Linked DNA regions of Homo sapiens: region 1 is linked to region 2. The links come from fine-mapping of genetic effects on plasma protein levels. Region 2 holds a variant in brackets. A gene starts in the other region. All regions are shown on their forward strands. Region 1 holds the start of MCAM (melanoma cell adhesion molecule). Region 2 overlaps LAMA4 (laminin subunit alpha 4).

The links. PIP is the posterior inclusion probability: the model's chance that the variant is causal. The UK Biobank Pharma Proteomics Project read protein levels with antibody pairs (Olink). The fine-mapping took linkage between variants from a reference panel, not from the people measured, so its PIPs are less certain.
Region 1: it holds the start of MCAM, and the variant in region 2 is fine-mapped to the plasma level of the MCAM protein (UK Biobank, PIP above 0.99).

The regions. Positions count from the first base shown.
Region 1 is chr11:119,315,380-119,318,290 of GRCh38, forward strand. It overlaps MCAM (melanoma cell adhesion molecule), which reads right to left and starts at 1,751. Exons shown (of 16, transcript NM_006500.3): 1 at 1,656-1,751. The coding sequence starts at 1,722. RefSeq lists an enhancer at 1-437 and a silencer at 2,030-2,089.
Region 2 is chr6:112,137,521-112,140,431 of GRCh38, forward strand. LAMA4 (laminin subunit alpha 4) reads right to left here. Exons shown (of 39, transcript NM_001105206.3): 23 at 2,232-2,365; 24 at 1,600-1,771. The region is part of intron 1 of LOC107986633 (a long non-coding RNA gene); the gene reads left to right. Among named protein-coding and RNA genes, the nearest start is that of FAM229B, 51 kb to the left of the region's middle. The variant C/T (reference allele first, on the strand shown) is at 1,643.

The sequences.
Region 1 (2,911 bases), not on the chromosome of region 2:
CTGTCCTCTGAACGCTCTACCCCCACCCCGACCCGCGCCCCACCTGGGCCAGCCCTCTCCCCGTCCAGGAGATCCCAGGTCCTTGGAGCCAAGCAGAGATTGAGCAGAGACTGAGCACCGAACAGCTCCAGCTGAGGCTGGTAGAGGGGCAGAAAGGGGCAACCTAGGCTCGGGGCCAAGAGGAAGGCCCCTTTCCTTCCAGGCCCCCTCCTCTCCGGGTGAGCTCAGAGTGTGGGAATGCAAAGCATGTGCCAGGCTGGGGCACACAGGCCCTTTTGTGTCACCACCGCCAGGGGAAGACACCACTGCTCTATCCTCTGCCCTCCAAAATCCCTGCCCTCACTCCCCAGCGGGCTAACTCTGGCGGAAGTTCCGGTCTCATGCTCCCTCAGCAGCACCTCCATGAACACTCCGCACACACCCGCGGACCCCACCCTAGGTAGCTGGTAAGGATGGAGAGGTCAGAGTCTCCCCCAGGGGTCAGGGCAAGGGCCAGGCAGTGGGCAGGAGTGACGTCAGTGGTGCCAGCGTGCTGCCAGCCCTGTGAGGAGGTGATGTCACTCGACACCATCTGCCTGGGCTCTGGGATGCCTGGGTTGTTACCTTGGCTCTCGGACAAGGAGGGCAGGTGGAAGGTGGGGTCTCCAACCCAGAGCCTCAGACCCCTGACTCCTCCCAGAGCTAGAAGAGCAGGGCAGGGTGGAGCTGGACCGGCTGCAACTGTGGAGCCCGATTTAGCCCTTTCCCCAGAAATAAAGTCAGCCTGGGAGGCAGTAGCCTGGAATACCCCAGGGACATGGTTGGCACTGGGCATGAGGCCAGCGAGCTGGGTATTGCCTAGCCCTCCCCTTCCCCAGCCGGACAGCGGCTGGGACGGCGGAATGGGAGCCAAGAGAAACACGCGACACCGCTGCGGGCCATACAAGGGCAGCGTGGACCCGAGAGCGCCCTGCTACCAGGCGGATCCGGAGAAACGCTCCGAGGTGCCCGGGCGCACTTCCCACCTGAATGTGGTCCCCAAAATAAGCCAGCGGGCGCTTCCAGTATGGGAATCCTCCATCCCTCATCTCTGTCCCCTATGATCCCATCACTCGGGGAGGCGCGAGGCGACCCACACCGCCCCGCAACCCCTGCCAACGCCCAGCTCGGGCGGGAGCCGCCGAACCTCCCGCTCTCGCTCACCTCCAGCCTGGCGTGATGCCCAGGCAGAAGGGGGAAGGGGTGGGTCGGCGCACCCCCTCCAGCGAAGGAAGCTGCCTTTTCCAGCAACAGGCGGGCGCGGAATTCAGGCTTTGAGGATGCGCCCCAGCTGCGCCTCCTGCCCGGCTTCAATTGCGGGCCCCCAGAGTGAGCACCTCAGGGACCACCCACCCCCCAGCACCCCGAAAGGCTGAGCTCCACCCCTTCTCGTTCCCAGAAGCAGCCTCCTCCCCGCCTTCCGAGTGCTGCTCCCGGGATACTCTAGAATCCCGGCTGCAAACTGGCTGCAAAGAAGAGTTGCTCGCGCGCAAGGCGCCCGGGGATCGGGGACCCAGGGAGGAGGCTCGTCCTCCCAGACGCAACGCCCCGACCCCGCCGCGCCGCTGGCTCTGCTCCCTGGCACGCTCCACCGCAGACCCCTAGCCGGGGCGCGGCCCCCCTGCGAGCGAACTCACCCGCGACGCGAGGACAGCAGCAGCAGGCGGCGAGCAAGAAGGCGCAGACCAGCCTGGGAAGCCCCATGCTTCCCGGCCGGAGGGCGAGAGCCAAGTGAGCAGCTCGAGGCTGCCGGGGGCTGACGTCAGGGGGGCGGGGGAGGGGGCCCGGAGCGCCCGGGCCCGCCCCGCCCCGCGCAGCCCCCAGCCCCCGCCCCGCGCGCCGCAGCCCTAGGGGGCGGGCCCCGGCGCCGCCAGCCCGGGAGCTGCGCCTAGGAGCGCTGCCGGAGGTAGGCCAGAGCCGGACTCCCAGGCTCCTGGCTTGGGAAGGCTGAGGGGGTAGTGACAGGTGTCTCGGGGTCTGACTGGCCGAGGTGGCAGCGAGGAGAAGCTGTCCCGGATGCCCGGAGTCGCCCCGGGTCGAAGCCAGCCAGGCTCACCGCTGCTCAGCCCCTGCCAGCCAATGTAGCCCCTAGGGGACCTCCTGGGGGAGGAGCAGTAGCGGACCTGGTCCTCGGTGTCCCCAAGGGGCCTCCCACTTGGGCTCCCCTCCCTTGCCACAGAGAATTCAGGCCGGCCTCTATCGCTTCCCAGAACGATTGCACCACTGCCGCTGCCGCCGGCCTGACACTGCCTCAGCCTCAGTGCTGGCAGCTTTGGGAGAAGAACCCTGCGCCAGTCCCACAGACCCAGAAGTACCTGTATGGGGAGTGCAGACGATGCCTTCTGGGCTGTCCCTTCAAACGCAAGCTCCTGCAAGTCTAGCCTTTGACCAGAGAAAGGAAGGAGGGGGCTGAATTCGCAGGCCCAAGGTGTTCACACTTGTCCAGACCTGGGCCTTGAGAATCATGTTTCTTCCCTCTTCACTCTGGAGCCTACCCTGGAACTCAGTTTCCCCTCACCTAAGAGAAAGAAACAGGGAGAAGAAAGAGTTAATGGGCGAGGGTCCCCAGCCTGACCCTGCAAACCTGTTGCTGTTCCTGATGATTGAAAGGATCCCGGCAGCGCTGATCTTCCCCCACCCCATGTCTTCCCCAGCCCTATTGATTGTGGGTCCATAGCTGAGGGAAGAATCAAATCAGACCTGCTTGGGTGGGGAGCTCTGCAGCTCCCCTTCTCCCAAAACGCCGGCTTCTCCCTGGGTCTTCTGGCCTCTTGAACTAAGGCTCTAGGGAGGGGGAGGTGCTCTTGCCTCACTCTGACCCCAGCAGCCTGGCCTCAGAAAAGGGGTCCACATCTGCTGGCGCGCCTCCACCAGGGAGTGCCAAATAGGGGCC
Region 2 (2,911 bases):
ATAATATGTGTGGCTTCCCAAGAGGGGTTCCACACTTGAAGAGTTGAAGGTAGCTCCTCATCCATTTCTTTGCTTCTAGCCTATTGCAATTTATTGCAGTTTACGTGTGGCTAGTTATATGGATTTAAGGCTGATATAACCGAAATAATAGAATATTTACACTCATTTTGTATTGAGATGTAGAGTGATGTGAAAACATTTTGAGACACACAGATATTTGCTGGCTACTTCCTACAAATTTCTGAAAATGCTGTTAAGTTTATAGAGGGTTACACATTTTTCTTTGTAACATGAATTATTCTAAATTTGTTGAACTTTATTCGTGATGACAAATGTCTGACAGTAGTATGAATCCTACTAGTTATTTCAAAAAAGAAACATACTGTCACATCAATGTAAGGGTATTATCATAATAATGGATGAGAAAGTAACTTTTTCTCCTTTTTTTTGAGGACGGTTATACTGTGGAGAGATGGTTTTTAAAAAATATGTTTGGGAATTTTTCTATTGTTGCTTTTGTTGATGGGAACAATGTAAATGCAATCCTACAAAAACTCTCCTATCAGCTCTATTAAAACATTTGAGGGAAGAAATTTCTAACCTTTAGAAAAATATTTCAAATAAAGATTTTCAATAGCTTTGAACCCTTTTATTAAAGTTTACAAAATGATACCTGGTTAGCTTACAAGAACTAATATTAGAAAAAAGGAAATACACCAATCAAATCTCAAAGACAACCTTTGCCACTTGGTGAATGTGATTGAAAACTATTTGAGTTAGTAGGCACAGCTAATGATATGGTTCTTTCATTTTTTATTTTTGTGAGGTGTCTTGTCTAGTTACAACCACCAATAAAATTACTGTTGAAATAAACTGGACTTAGGACAAGACTTTTGAATCACTGTGTCACAAAGAGTTTAAGGATTTTTGAAAATATTTAGCATACTTAATTACATTTTCTCACTAAAACTATTTTCTTTGAGCTGTACAGTAGATAAAGTACTATTAAAAATAATTTTAGTGAGAAAAACATTTCTGTATCATTAATAAATAAGTCAATTTAATCTTCATTTTAAATATATAATCTTTTATTTTATCTTTATATAATTTGTCCTTTATTACAAGCTTTGACTGTTTCATACTATATTTATATCTGTTTATAGTACACATGTATCATTTATAAACAAAGATATATATGTGTGTGTGTGTACATACATATATACTTACATACACACATACATATATACAAAGCATGCAAGCTTTGCTTTAAAATTGATTAGGGCATATGGTTTGGAAAAGTTAGGAGCCCAGTGCAAAATTTCTGCAGACACCCTGCTCATCTAGATCTTGGTTCTAATTTCCTCAAAGTTCTCTTAGTTTATTTATATCCAAAAATGTACTGTGGGGAAATGCATCTCAGGGTTGCTTTTATTTATTGCTGTCATTACTTTCCTGAAGAAGAAAATCCAATTTGACTTTCTAAACTAGAATTTCAGTTTGATGGCATGACACACTAGACCTGGGAAGGTTCCTGGAAACATGAGTAGCAGAAAGTAAAGGAAATAAAGGAGAAGTAGTAGGACTTGTATTTTTACTCACTCCATTGACCATCAGGAGAATAAGGCCGTTGTCAGCTGGTGTT[C/T]GAACTTCTATGTCAAAGCGAGTCACCTGACCAAATTTCCCTCTCCTTGTGATGTCTCTCACCACGGCATAACCGGAGCCATCGAAGAAGTAACTGGCAGCCCGACTCTGAGTGAAGGCCAGCTTATCTCTGAAATGGAAACACAACGGTCATTTGAACACTACAGTTTCTGTTATGCTTTTCAAGTGAAGCCCTTTTAACCCATTCTTCTAACATCTTCTGTGGACCTTACAACATTTAAATGAAGTCCTGTTGTCTGCAAGGAAGAGATAAAGAGGTATTTGTAGGTATGTTAAATGGATTGTTTTCTTCTGTATCCTGTGTGCTAAGACAACTGAAGTCTCCAGGGACACCCTAGTCTCTGGAATCCTTAATCAAGGCTGCAAACAAGTTGTTTAACACTTCATACTTGGGCATGCTCATCTATGATAGAGAACAGGTGAAGAGTTTTTTGCAGGTATGACTTATGTAGTTTCAAAACTGGCTTCCCCAAAGAAAAGTTTGAGAACCTGAATATTGACTCATACTTGTTCTATCTGCTGCTCTTGCATGAATATCCAAGTCTTTAGTACTCTTAACTGTCTCTTACCGGGCACATGGCACTGATGTGGAGGGGTCCATATTATAGATGTGCTTAAAGTTGTACAAGCTGATCACATCATTATTCAAAGTGGCCAGTTCCAGGCAGCCAACAAAGCCAGGCAGGTTTAAGCTGGTAGGGAGCTATGCAATAGAAAAAGTAAAACCACTTGTCTCATGGTCATATTTTACTCAGACATCACAGAACAGACAATGCAACTAATAGTAGGTCAAGGAGACCTACCCCTTTGTGGAAATATCTTTCTAGACCCGAGTGTGTTTATGCCAAATCATTTAGATATGGCGTAACTTGTCAGTTGTGCAAATCTTAGCAGAGAAAGTGGGATTTACTGAGCATAGATTATGTGCTGGTCATAGGCTGTACAGTGAATTCATGACAAAAATCAGTCCTTGCGCCAGCTTTGTTAGGTAGGTATTCTTGTTCTCATATAATGAGAGGGAAAATAATTCTCAGATAAATTCCAATTATGTGCCCATAACTAGTAATAATAGTCCTGAAATTGGAACCCTAGATCAACTTCCCATCTTCTTCGACCTTTCCTTTATCCCCCTTCATCAGATTTCATACTCTCTCCGAAGTCTCACCCCCTCTCTCATCCCAGATACTTTATTTCATACCTGTATTAGGTGAGATAACTGAATTTTTGAAACCACCACTGCAAAGCTGAA